Linked DNA regions of Homo sapiens: all the other regions are linked to region 1. Evidence: fine-mapped expression QTL. A gene starts in region 1. Each other region holds a variant in brackets. All regions are shown on one strand. Distances are from middle to middle. Region 1 holds the start of NET1 (neuroepithelial cell transforming 1). Region 2 overlaps LASTR (lncRNA associated with SART3 regulation of splicing). Region 3 holds the start of LOC105376380 (a long non-coding RNA gene).

What was found. PIP is the estimated chance that this variant, and not a neighbour inherited with it, causes the effect. A credible set is the group of variants that fine-mapping cannot tell apart.
Region 2: its variant is the best candidate, but not a certain one, in a credible set for the expression of NET1 in whole blood (INTERVAL, PIP 0.70).
Region 3: its variant is the best candidate, but not a certain one, in a credible set for the expression of NET1 in whole blood (INTERVAL, PIP 0.72).

The regions. Positions count from the first base shown.
Region 1 is chr10:5,410,164-5,414,398 of GRCh38, forward strand. It overlaps NET1 (neuroepithelial cell transforming 1), which reads left to right and starts at 2,394. Exons shown (of 12, transcript NM_001047160.3): 1 at 2,394-2,657. The coding sequence starts at 2,530. RefSeq lists a silencer at 2,306-2,735.
Region 2 is chr10:5,590,765-5,594,999 of GRCh38, forward strand. It overlaps LASTR (lncRNA associated with SART3 regulation of splicing), which reads right to left. Exons shown (of 2, transcript NR_134491.1): 2 at 4,220-4,235. Among named protein-coding and RNA genes, the nearest start is that of LASTR, 3.2 kb to the right of the region's middle. The variant G/A (reference allele first, on the strand shown) is at 2,422.
Region 3 is chr10:5,551,206-5,555,440 of GRCh38, forward strand. It overlaps LOC105376380 (a long non-coding RNA gene), which reads right to left and starts at 872. Exons shown (of 4, transcript XR_930611.3): 1 at 825-872. RefSeq lists enhancers at 2,296-2,819, 2,820-3,342. The variant T/C (reference allele first, on the strand shown) is at 2,125.

The DNA.
Region 1 (4,235 bases):
CGGAGTAAAAGAAAGGTGATTCCAGAGAATAAAGGGGAGGGTTTGGCTTCTATAGAAAAAGTTCTTGTCCAGGTTTCCAATCAGATGTGTTTATGCAAAGGAAAGATTCAGACTTGCTCAGTTCAGATTGGGTAATACAGCTGAACCCTGATTGGATAAAGCAGATGAGTTCTGATCGGTTACATCAGGTGAGCCCTGATTGGTCAATTCGGGTAAATTGTGAAAATCCCAAAGGGGTGTGAGTTTTCTGGACACAGAGTAGTTGTGACCTACTTGGGACCTGACTTGAAGAATTGCTCTTACAGGTTTATTTTTGTTCATAATCTAAACATCTGCATCCTCTGAAGCTCTGTCTTGGTGGAGACCAACTCCCCAAATATTAAGAACATTTCTGTATTCTTACACTCTAACTGCTACAAAGCAGTACTTTCTTCTTTAATTTTTGGGGAGGGATGGGGAAGGTAGAACAGAAGTGGTTCTTGACCAAGGTCAACTTATGTTCAGAGCTGGTTCCTTCCGGTGGGTTCATGGTCTCGCTGACTTCAAGAATGAAGCCATGGACCTTCATGGTGAGTGTTACAGCTCTTAAAGGTGGCACAGACCTAAAGAGTGAGCAGCAGCAAGATTTATTGTAAAGAGTGAAAGAACTAAAGCTTCCACAGTGTGGAAGGGGACCCCAGTGGGTTGCCCTGCTGGCTGGGGTGGCCAGGTTTTATTCCCTTATATGTGCCCTCCCATGTTCCATTTTTGTCCTATCAGAGTGCCCTTTTTTCAATCCTCCCTGTGATTGGCTACTTTTAGGGTCCTGCTGATTGGTGCTTTTTACAGAGCACTGATTGGTGCATTTTACAATCCTCTTGCTAGCTACAGAGCACTGATTGGTGTGTTTTACAATCCTCTTGCCAGACAGAAAAGTTCTCCAAGTCCCCACTCTACCCAGGAAGTCTAGCTGGCTTCACATCTCAATGTTACTCCCTAATTTCTTACTCTTTTTAAAACAAAAACATTTTTCCCTCATGTTATAAAGGTACTGCAAATTCAATATGTCCTTATTTTTAAAAAAATTAAATGCAAAAAATAAAAATAAAAATTTTGAATACCTAAAGTCTACCTAGAGACATTTTAATACATTGACTTTTTAATACATTTAATACATTTTAATACATTATCTTTTTTCTTTGTATAATCTCTTGTAATTCATAACTTTGAATATACTGAATATACCTCTATACTTCATGTTTTTATTTCAAATTACCAGTATACTATTACATACTTCACACTTCATTTTTGTTGGCTGAAAATATTCTTCTCAGTGGATGAGCTATAAATCATTGTTTATTTAGGTTGTTTTAAATGTTTCTATTATAAACAATGTCATTAATAGCTTCATGTTTATATAATTTTATTTTTTAGGATAAATTTCCATAAGTGGAAATATACTGGCAAAAGAGAAGTGTTTTTTTGTTTTTTTTTTTTTGGAGACGGAGTCTCGCTCTGTCACTGGGCTGGAGTGCAGTGGCACGGTCTTGGCTCAATTCAAGCTCCGACTCTCTGGTTCAACTAATTCTCCTGCCTCAGCCTCCTGAGTAGCTGGGATTACAGGCATGCGCCACTCTGCCCAGCTAAGTTTTGTATTTTAGTAGCGACAGGGTTTCACCATGTTGGCCAGGATGGTCTTGATCTCCTGATCTCGTGATCCGCCTGCCTCAGCCTCCCAAAGTGCTGGGATTACAGGCGTGAGCCACAGCGCCCGGTCAGGAGAAGCTATTTTTAAAGACTTTGACACATATAAAGCAATATTTAAAATCAAAGAAAGTGTAATTTGTTTAACAATTTTTTTTTTACTTGAAGCGGTCTTTTATTTTATATTATGTCTTTTGCTGACTTTTACAAGCAAAGGATGAAGTCACTTCATTCTGTTTTGCTAGGGAGAGACTGTGTCATGCTTATTGGAAGACATAAGGGCTCATAATTAGATTTTGCTGGTTCCCTAGAGACAGTCCCGGGAACACACTTGCATAACCTTTGGTAATTGGAAATATATCTCATATTGGCCACGTGCACAATAATTCAGTGTGAATATGGCCAATAAACATGCCTTGTTTACAGGTCATTAGTTTGGACCTCTCTTCTCCTCAAATGCTAAGAAAGATCTGGTGAATTAAAATGCTTCCAGTCCATTTGCCTTGGCCTGTAGTGAAAGTCCTAATGAACAATGAAGGAGGTACCGGGCCTTAGGGACTCAGGGATGCGCTCAGGAGTTAAGGGCAAATTTTCCTAGGTTCTTTCCTAGGCAAGTAGATCCCGGGAGCGGTGGAGGGGCGGGACTCCACGTCTCCTAGGAACCGCTGCGCGCTCACTGATTGGCTGATCGCTGCTCAGCCGCCATTTTCAAATCCCCGGATGACGGCGGTGGCGGCTGCAGTCCGCTGACAGGCGCTTTCTGCCTGGCAGAGGCTGGCGGGCATCGTGCCCGTCCCTGCCGGTCTCCCGGGCACCCGGCCACCGCCCCACCCCCTCCTCCGTGCCATGGAGCCCGAGCTGGCGGCTCAGAAGCAGCCTCGACCGCGGAGGCGAAGCCGCCGGGCCTCTGGGCTCAGCACGGAGGGAGCGACGGGGCCTTCGGCCGACACCTCCGGGTCGGAGCTGGACGGGAGGTGAGTGTGGGGGAGGGGAGGGCCGAACGGGAGGTGAGTGTAGGGGAGCGGAGGGCCGAACGGGAGGTGAGTGTTGGAGAGGCAAGGGCCGGGGGGAGGGGAGGGCTGGCCGGGAGTTGGATGTGGGGGGCGGCGAGTGGGGGTGTTGGTGAGGGCCAGGGGGAGGCGAGGGCCGCTGGGAGGTGAGTGGGGGGTGGGGGAGGTGACCGCGGGGTTGGGGGGGGGGACGGGGGCCGCTGGAAGTGAGGGTGGCACAGGCTGGAGTGACAGTGTGCCTGGCCTTGGACCGAGGTCGGTCCTGAGACCCCAAACTGCGATTTTCCCTGCCTGTGGCAAAGGGGCGGGTTTATTGAGTCTCCTCGCCTCCTGACTGTTTCTCAGGGGAGACTTAGGAAAAACCACAATGGTTTTGTTCTGCACACCCAACTGGCTGTAGGCTGGCGTTCCCAAATGCCTTTGCTCAGACCGAAACTGTCATGGTGAGCACCACGAGAATGGGCTTCCATGTCCTGAGAAAGAAAAGACTAAGGGATAAGTTGACTTCGGGATATGTTATGAGATGCCTATTAGAGAGTTCATCACAACCATTTTCGTGTTTTTTCTTTTTACTTTTTGTGGAAGTATACATTGAAATGAGAGTGTATGACTCGTGTTTGGCTCAGTGAAATTTCACAAAGCGAAGCTCAGGGGATAGCTAGTGAATTAGGAGGAAGGGAACCAAGTGAGAACAGTATCCAGGAGGCCAAATGAAGAAAGAATTTCAAGAAGAGGACGTGGCGAGCTATGTCAGATGTTATTGATAGGTCAAATAAAATGAGGATTAAGTAAAATAAGATGAGGATTAAGCTAGATGAGGAATGAAAATTAAATTTGGTAATGAGAAGAGAGTATTGATCTTAGATGGTTTCCAAGAATGGTTACAATATCGAACTTAGAGTGTTTTGCAACAGGTTGAGAAGAGAATGTGCGATTTGTTCAGAAAATAATGTGAGTGCCAACACTAGGAATATGGAAATGGAAAAATACTCTTGTTACTATTTAAGATTTATAATCTAGTGGGGAAGAAAGATAAGTAGGTTAATAATTATTATAATATGTGATAAAAGTTATTATAGTGATATACACAGAATGCCGTAGATTAAAAGGAACACTTAATCCTGACTGGAGAGAATAGGAAATGATTTCCTATTGTAATCCCTGAGTCTTTAAGGACCAGTTTAGAGAGCAGATGTAAATGGATGATTTCAGGCAGAGAAGCATGTAGAAAGGCCCTGAAGCAAATGAGTCTGATGAGTTCTGGGTATATATTCTATTTTATTACTATATTAACAGTGATATTTGTATAGAGGAGAGGAAACCAATATGGGGAGAAGGAGGAGGTAGTCATGAGAGATGATGCTAAAGAGGTAAGCGCCACATCATGAAGAGACCTTGTATGCCTTGACAGAGTTTGGGTTTTATCTTCATGGTAATGGGGAAATACTGAAAGACTTTAAATGAGCCAATGGCATGACATATTTGCATTTTAAAAGATCAGTTTGCCTTCCATGAGAAAAATAAGCAACATTTTGGAGTCAT
Region 2 (4,235 bases), 180 kb after region 1:
CCGATCTGGGGGCTCCAGGCCCTCCCTAACTGCCTCCCTTCTCCAAAATGCACCCCTAGTCTCAGACCTCACTGTACTGTTCATCTACTGTCTTACAACTCTGTCCTCGTACTCACCCCAAAAAGTAAGGCAATGACAAAGAGATGGAGTGGAGGGCACTCGAGCAGGAAGCAGAGCCAGAAGCCCTCCCGCTCCAGGGGCCAGGGGGAGGGCGGGGTCAGGAGGGTGAGAAAGCCCAGGAACCCTTCAGACTGGCGGGGTGAGTGCAGCCCCAGCATCCAGACTCAACTCCTCACCCAGGCCCTCCAGGCTGCCCCGCTTTAACGCCTGCTCCTCCCTTCTCCCGCACATGTGTCCCTTCCTGGGGGCTACGCCCTGGTGTTCACATGTCTTTCTTTTTCTCTGTCCTATCTGTCGAGCTTTGCCCAGGATGCTTGGAAGTCTTCATCTTATCATTCCCAGGATCCAGGGAATAATAAGATCCTTATTCCCAGGATCCAGGCATGATGCTGTCTGTGCAGTTCAAGCACAGGTGCATTTTGCATTTACTTTTTGAGGCTTCATATACATGAAGCACTACACTAGGCCATTAGCGCTAACTTAAAGGGGAAGAGAGAATGTGATTGCCACTCTCACGTGGCGCGCTGGAAGGTTCAGGGAGGTGCAGCTGACAAACCAACCAGAGACACTAAGTGCCGCAGGCTGCCCTGCTGGGTGACAGGGCGGCCTGCAGAGGTGGAATGCGCTCTCTGACCCCACAGCCCGCAGGGCCCCAGTTGAGCTCCCAGAGGGCTGCCCGCATCTGTCCCTGTATCTCACGGCGCCCCTCAGGAAGCCCAAGGCAGTGTTCCTGGCATAGATGCGGGGAACCCTCAAGGGTGGGTGCAGTACCTCAGCCTTCCAGGCCCAGGTGCCCCAAGGGCTGGCCTCCTGCAGGGACAATGCTGAGCTGGAGGTCCACACGGCAGGCAGAGGGGTGGCTGGTGTAGCTAAGCCTCCCCAGGAACAAGGAGCCGGGCCTGCTTTCACCTGCTGCTCTCTTTCCTGACAGCTGTGGGAGATGAGTGAGCCGGAGCAGGGCTAGCAGCAAAGGGAAGGCTGCATCAGCCCCCAGCCCAGCCTCTGTGTGGCCTCTGCACGTGCACGCGCACACTACACACACACACACACACAAACACACACCTTGGCAGATGTATCCCTAGAACGTGGCAGAGACTCAGGCTGGAGCCACTTGGTGCAGGGACTCACAACCTCCAAACTCCAGATGCCACCGCTGCTAGGAGCTTATGTCGACTGAGCTTGGACCAATGCTGGTCACAGGATCTTGGACCATGTTCTTGCCTGTTGTACCTCAGAGAAGATCCTTCCCATTCCCTTTCTCCTGTACCCGAGGAAAACCCTAGCCTGCACTTCCCGTCGGGCTTCCTGCTGGGAGCACCTCCAGCCCCCCATTACCCAGCAACAACTTCTCCACGGCCACCCAGGGACACATGTGAACAGGTGATGGAGGCCAGCATGGATTCCCACCCAGCCCCCATGCATGCCTGCTCCTAGGGGTTAGACCCCTGCTTTCCGGAAACTTTCTCTTCCTCGGATATTTGGCAAACTGCCCACCGTGCTTTGAAGTCTTCATCTTATAGATTCTCAGGATCCAGGCACGATGCTATCTGTGCAGTTCAAACACAGCTGCATTTTGCCTTTATTTCTCAGAGCTTAATATACATGAAGCACCAAGCTAGACCATTAGTACTAACTTTACCATTAATGGAAGAGATGGCATGATTCCCACTCTCTCTCAGGTGGTATGTGGGAAGGTTCGGGGAGGCGTGGCCGACAAATGGACCTGAAATATTAAGAGGACAGCACAAGAAAGAGTGTGGCCTGGTGTCCACCATGCTCTTTGGAAGCTCAGTGCCATGGAAGGAGGGGAGGGCCCTTCAGGGCCACGGTGCAGGGAAGTCTGAAAGATTTGAAGGAGGGAGCAACATGGTCCTATGTCAGGAGCTGGTATTAATGCCAGAAATCAAGAGTGTTCTTGATTTAGGAAAAGGAGTACATGGAATTGCCCGGATCACAACGGAGAGGGAGGAGAAGGGAGCTGGCCGTGTCCCCGTCATCACCAGCTGTCATTGGAGGGCAGCTTCCGAGCCCCACTGGTGTCTCAGCTGGGGATGGCAGAAAGCACCCTGCAAGAAGCTGCCAAGCTCTGTCGTTCCTTATGAACCAATTAAACATGATTAAGATTGTGTTCTCATTACCTAAATAATTCATTAACATTTTCAGTAGGAAATTTAGAAAATATAAGTGAGTGAGAATAAAACAGAAATCACGTGTTTTCTCACCCACGGAGACACTGCATCCTTCTAGTCTTTTTTCTACACATAAACATATTTTTGTTAAATTATAATTTGTCAAACGAGG[G/A]TATTGATTCAGGGAAAGTTAATATTAGATAGTGCTGTTGCTGTCCATGTTCAAAGGTGGTCTAGTGACAATGATGACTCTTTGGACTGAAAAGAGTCACCGGGCATGGTGGCTCACGCCTGTAATCCCAGCACTTTGGGAGGCTGAGGCGGGCGGATCACGAGGTCAGGAGTTCAAGAGCAGCCTGGCCAACATGGTGAAACCCTGTCTCTACTAAAAAAAATACAAAAATTATCTGGGCGTGGTGGTGGGCACCTGTAATCCCAGCTACTCAGGAGGCTGAGGCAAAAGAATACTTTGAACCTGGGAGGCGGAAGTTGCAGTGAGCCAAGATCGCACCATTGCACTCCAGCATAGATGACAGAGTGAGACTCCGCCTCAAAAAGAAAAAAAAGAAAAGAAAAGAGTCACCCTGCAGGAACAATGGCCATTATCTGTCACACGGCTTTTGGACTTACCATTTGCCTGGATGTCTTTGTGTGAAGAAAGCCAAGTCCCCTACCCACCACCTCCTCATCCCCCACACAATCATCTCCATGCAGTTTCACCTTCGTCTTCCAATACCGCACATCTGTGACACGCTGCGAGCAGTGCTGCACAGAAGCATATTTTAAAAGCTTCCTATAACTTCCCCGCCTCTTGTTTCTTTGGTTCAAGAACAGTTGACCCATGGGGCAGGAAAGTATATAAAAATATCCCTATGGGCTGGGCACGGTGCCTCACGCCTATAATGCCAGCATTTTGGGAGGCCAAGGCGGGAGGATCACCTGAGGTCAGGAGTTCAAGACCAGCCTGGCCAACATGGTGAATCTCCATCTCTCCTAAAAATACAAAAATTAACCGAGTGTGGTGGTGCATGCCTGTAATCTCAGCTGCTTGGGAGGCTGAGGCAGAAGAATCACTGGAAGCCGGGAGGAAGAGGTTTCAGTGAGTCAAGATCATGCCATTGCACTCCAGCCTGGGTGACAAGAGCAAAACTCCAACTCAAAAAATAAAAATATCCCTGTGCACCCAGAGGGGGCCCCGATCTCAGGGAAAGGTTGATCTTGGGAGAGGCAGGGCATAGATTAAAAACAATTGTCTAATGCACGATTAAATACGTTCATGGGCTTGCACAGTGTAAGAGCTCAAGAGAGACTTAGAAATAACAGAGTACCTCCCTCCCTCTGCCTTGCAGACAGGGAAAGTGGTTCCAAAAACAGGCTTTCGAAGCCCCAACATGTTTGTTTCTGAGCCCTCACATGGCTTCTTAGCAGTCTTTGGGCTTTCTAGCTCAGGTGCATACACATCAGACACATTTTCATTGAGCTCACAGGAAATCACTGCAGCTCACACAGCTTCCTCAAAAAGGCAAAAATCACCGGGAGAAAGTCACAAGGTTTAAGAACTTTCTCAGCCCCAAAGGGTTAATGGAGGCTGGCAATGCAGCATGATCCCACCCGGGCTTGGACAGGAAAAGAACTCAGGAGCTGTTTTTCTTCTCCGAAAGCCAATCCCAGTGGAGGCACTGGGGTTTTTAAAACCAAATGTCTCTACAGCTTGAAATGAACGACTGCGTGACCTCAGCCGTCACACACACATGGCCCCTGCTGTTAAACCCTGAGCAGGGCTGGGCTCAGGGCATCCCGTAAATATTCGACGTCTGTGAGGCACATGTGGGAGGAAGAGCTGCCATCAGAAGTGGTTTCAGCTGGAAGGCCAGAGTCTCTCTCTCTCTCTCTGTGTCTGTCTGTCTCTGAAAGTTACCGTCATCTGTTAGCAATTTCCCCACTCCCATTAAAGCCAGACACTGGATCCATTTGCGTTGCTGCAGA
Region 3 (4,235 bases), 140 kb after region 1:
CCTCGGCAAAGACCCTCTTTCCAAACACAGTCACAAACCAGGTGGAACTGGTTTGGGCTTGCCTGGAGAACTGGTTGGGGCAGGCCAGGTGAGAGGTGAAGGAGGGCAGGAGGGTCCCTGAGAGATGGCTCAGCCTAGGAGCAGAAGGACCAGGTCTGAGTGAATCTGTCAGGCCTGGGGTGACTCACCACATTTCTCTTCCAGGCCAGACCTCCGCCGCCGGCCTCATCTCTTAGGCCTAGTGGGGCCTCCAGAAGACAGAACCCCACAGCCTCATCTCTTAGGCCTAGTGGGGTCCCCAGAAGACAGGGGCTGACAGGTGGTCCTGCCTTACAGCAGAGGGGACCAGAAGGCCGCTGTGCAAGGGGCTCAGTGATTTTAACCTAAGCCCGTGTGCTTCACTGCTGGGAATCTGTAAATGACGGCTGGGGGGGGTCTGTGCAGGGACATTAGCAACAGAGACAGGGGCCAAGGAGATGTGGGTACATGCACCTGTCAGGGTCACCCAGGACTCCAGAGCCTGAAGGTCCCCAGCACCACCCAGGCTCTCTAAGGTGCACCTGGCCCAGCTCACATTCCCAAGCCAGCCAAGTGACTCAGAACGCCACCCCCCACCACAGCCTCCCCTCGTTGACCACAGCCTCCCCTCGTTGACCACAGCCTCCTGTCTCCACATGACATCGAAACTGTCTCTTCTCTCCCGGACAGGAGGGGAGGAATCTGCACAGACAAGGGCCAGGGTTCAGACAGAAGACAACGCCCACACCAGCCACTTGGATCCGGAAGATTCCTGTACACACTTGCATGGGTGTAAAATTACTAACCTGGTGGCTAAAGAGGTAAACAGGAGCTCTGAGGTGTCACCCCTGAGGCTGAGGAGGCAAAGGGAAAAGGTTGGGATTCTTCAAACGTGGAAACTTGGAGGTAGGGGCTGTGGGCCTGGGCCCCTAACCTTGAAGGAAGGGGTTCCAGCTGTAAAGTGTCTGAAGTGGGTGCAAGGAAGTTGCATTTGCAAGTGCTGGAGAAGCTGCAAAAAGAGTCAGCCTCTGCCACTGAAAGAAGCCGCTGCTGCGGGGGCGGGGGGTGCCCACAGGGAAGAAACAAACTCTAGGGTGTGGGTTTCTGCTCAGGCTGGGCAAGTATCTTTATGAAAGGGACCTGCATAAAGCGTCCATAAAACCTGCCCCTTTGCATCCTCTAAGCCAGCAGGTTCCCCATGCCTCACCCCTCTTTCCTGAACTCCTCTTCACCCCAATCCCCATTCCTAGCACCCCCTAAGGACAGGCTGTGCCCTGACAACCGTCCATCTCTACCCAGCTGAGACCTCTGTCCAGGGCGATGGTTGCAGGACCATGCAGACACGGAAGTTTGCTGAGATCCCACTCCAACTGCCTGCTCTCAGATTCTGAGTATTTCTCTAGCCCCCTCATAAAAACACAGGTCACTTTCACACTGAAAGTAAAAGATCCCTCCTTAAGTCCTTCATCCTGCATCTCCACCACCCGCCAGGCCCTGCCCTGGCAAAAAGTCTCACAGCCTTTTAAGGTGACCCGAGGACCCAACTCTGTCTCTTTCTCTCCTCTCTGTGCTTCAGCTTGTTTCCTGGCCACCAGCAAGGTCCCTCTTTGGTCTGGGAGGTAGGTGTCTGCAGGACACTGGGAGGATTTAAATACAATGATCAGTGTGGGGCCCCGAGAGGGCCTGAGACAGGATTTCCACTGATTGCCAACGTTCAATACGGACCCCTAGGAGACAAGCAGGAACTCCTGTTCTTATCCACACCTCTGCAGAACGGCGGAGACCACTCAGCCATGAGAGTGGCCTCTACCATTTCAGAGAGTAGCCGAGGAGGGAGCCATCCTCAGCCACTGCTGTGTGGTCGGTGGGCCTGGTTTCCACACGTCACAGAGCCTGGCACCAGACCGGCTAAGCATGGGCCTTCGTGGCACAGGCCCAGGAAGCTTCGAGTCCCAAGATTTAATTTTGTTTTCTGGGCCTTTTGAAAGAAAACGTTGTCATCAATGATTGCTCTCTAGCACGTGTCTGAAGAGCGGCCACCAAAAGGAGCCACTGCTGCAGGGGTGTCCACGCGCGCAGGGAAAGAACGGACTCCAGGGGCTGGGT[T/C]TGCTCTTGGAGAATGAGGTCGTCAAAACCTCACTTCGTGGGGAAGTCTGGAAAAGACAGTTTCCTGCTTTGTTCATCGTGGGCAGCAGGAAACGGTGCAGCCTCCAGTGAGAATGATTCCAGGAGGGTGTAATGGGGCGAGGTATGAAGGGGTAGGCAGTGTGGGGAACCACCCACCCGGGCCATGTAGCTGGCACCGTGGTAATTTAAGAGACCTGGAGAGATAGGGGAGGGATGGTCAGGGGACTTGGAAAAGGAGGAAAGAGGTGGGGAGGAGCCCAGCGGGAAGGAGATGCCTCATCACACCCTCCTCCCTCCCAGCCCCACAGGCTCCCACTGGCTGAGCCAGCCAGAGCCAGAGAGCACAAGGTCCCCCACGATGGCCCCCGCCGGTCAGTGTCCTGGGGGAGGAGGGGGTGCACCTGGAGGGGCAACTGGAAGGCACCCAGGACCCCCCAGAACCCCTTGGGCAGCCCCAGCTTGAACTGCAGGGAATCTGCCATTCAAGATGGCTGCTAGAAAATGGCGATTCTACCTCCCAGGTGACTCCAAGGGCTCTTACCCAGAGTCCTGAATAGCCACAGCCCAGCCCAGGAGTCCTAAAAGGAATTCTAGAGTGACCCGGATGGTTGTAAGGGCCTGAGAATGATCTGTGCCGTTCGGCAGAGACCCAAGTGCTCTCGGAGTGACCCAAACCTCAGGGCTGAGAACAGCTCGAGGTTCACCTGGACTTACCCCTGCTCCCCCACAGATCCTCGGTGCACCCTGGGATTTCCACAGCCACGTGGATTTTAAGCCAAATCCAGGATGATCCCATGACACACAGGTCTCAGCTCCCCATGGGGCATTTCTCTCCAAGACCACCTTCCTCCCCAGCTCACCGTCCACGTCTACAGAGCCATGCACCTCCGTGGCAGAGCTGAGTGCACGTGGCACAGAGTCAGGGCTGACATTGAGCAGGGCACCCTTGGTCTCCCCCAAGACCCATCAGAGTGTGCCTGGCACTGCCTTTCAATAAAAAGCCCAGGGTCTGAGCAGGGTGGGGCGTCTCCCCTCCCCCAGCCAGGATGAAGGTCAGAGCTGAATTTGCTCAGTTCAACACCAAAAACAGTCCTGAAGGAAAATGTGTTGAGCTTGGCTGTAAGCCAGGTCGTTAAACATGGATTCTGATCACAGATCGTTTCTGCTAATTAAACAAATATTTTTGCAGAGCTGTCTCGGTTTCCGCTGTTGCCGTTGGCCTAAGTTGCTGGCAAACCATTGGAGCCATGCCCCGAAAGTCAGCTCAGATCAGAGGAGAACACACAGAACTTTTGAAGGAACAGCTAAGACAGGTCTTCCAAACAGAGAGCTCTGTTCAGAGAGAAGGAACAGGCAAGAAAACACCGACACCTCCAGCCCTTACAGTCACCAAGCTGTACTTTCAGATTCCTGCTGACATACACACACACACACACACACACACACACACACACACACTCTCTCTCTCTCTCTCAATCCCTCCCTCTCTCAGAATGCATAGTCCTTCTCCCTGCCTCCATCTCTAAAGCTACACCTGCACACACAAATAAGCATTCTAGCAGTGCAATCACTATTCCAAGTTTGAAGACTCGTGTGTGTGTGTGTGTGTGTGTGTGTGTTTTCCTGCTGAAGTGGAGAGAAAAGGGCCAGACAGGATGGGCCCTGGGTCCCCATGTGACGTACCCCAGCAGGGGTCCTTTGCTCCTTCAAAAATGCAATTATCACAAACTTCCCTCGCCCTGGACCGCGGTTCCAGAGAAACGCCCATGCACATAATGTTTTGGTACAAGTTCAGGGTGTTCGTGAACTTTCTGAAGCCCGCCAAGAGCGCACTGCGAGTTCCAAGTTTAGAATACCAGTCCTGGGGAGTCAGGAAGCGTTTGCAGCCTCTGAACTGTCCGCAGAACTGTCAAGCACCCAAGGCTCGTCCTCTCTCAGCAGCTCCGAAGCCCCCTGGACTGCAAGCACTCAGCACCCAGAGCCTTCCCTGCCATGCCCCAGCCCTGAGGTGTCCTTTCACACTCCGGACCCCCCGGCCTTTCTCAGAAAACGCTCCGTGCTGCGCTGTGTTGTCCCCACTTGTTGCACAA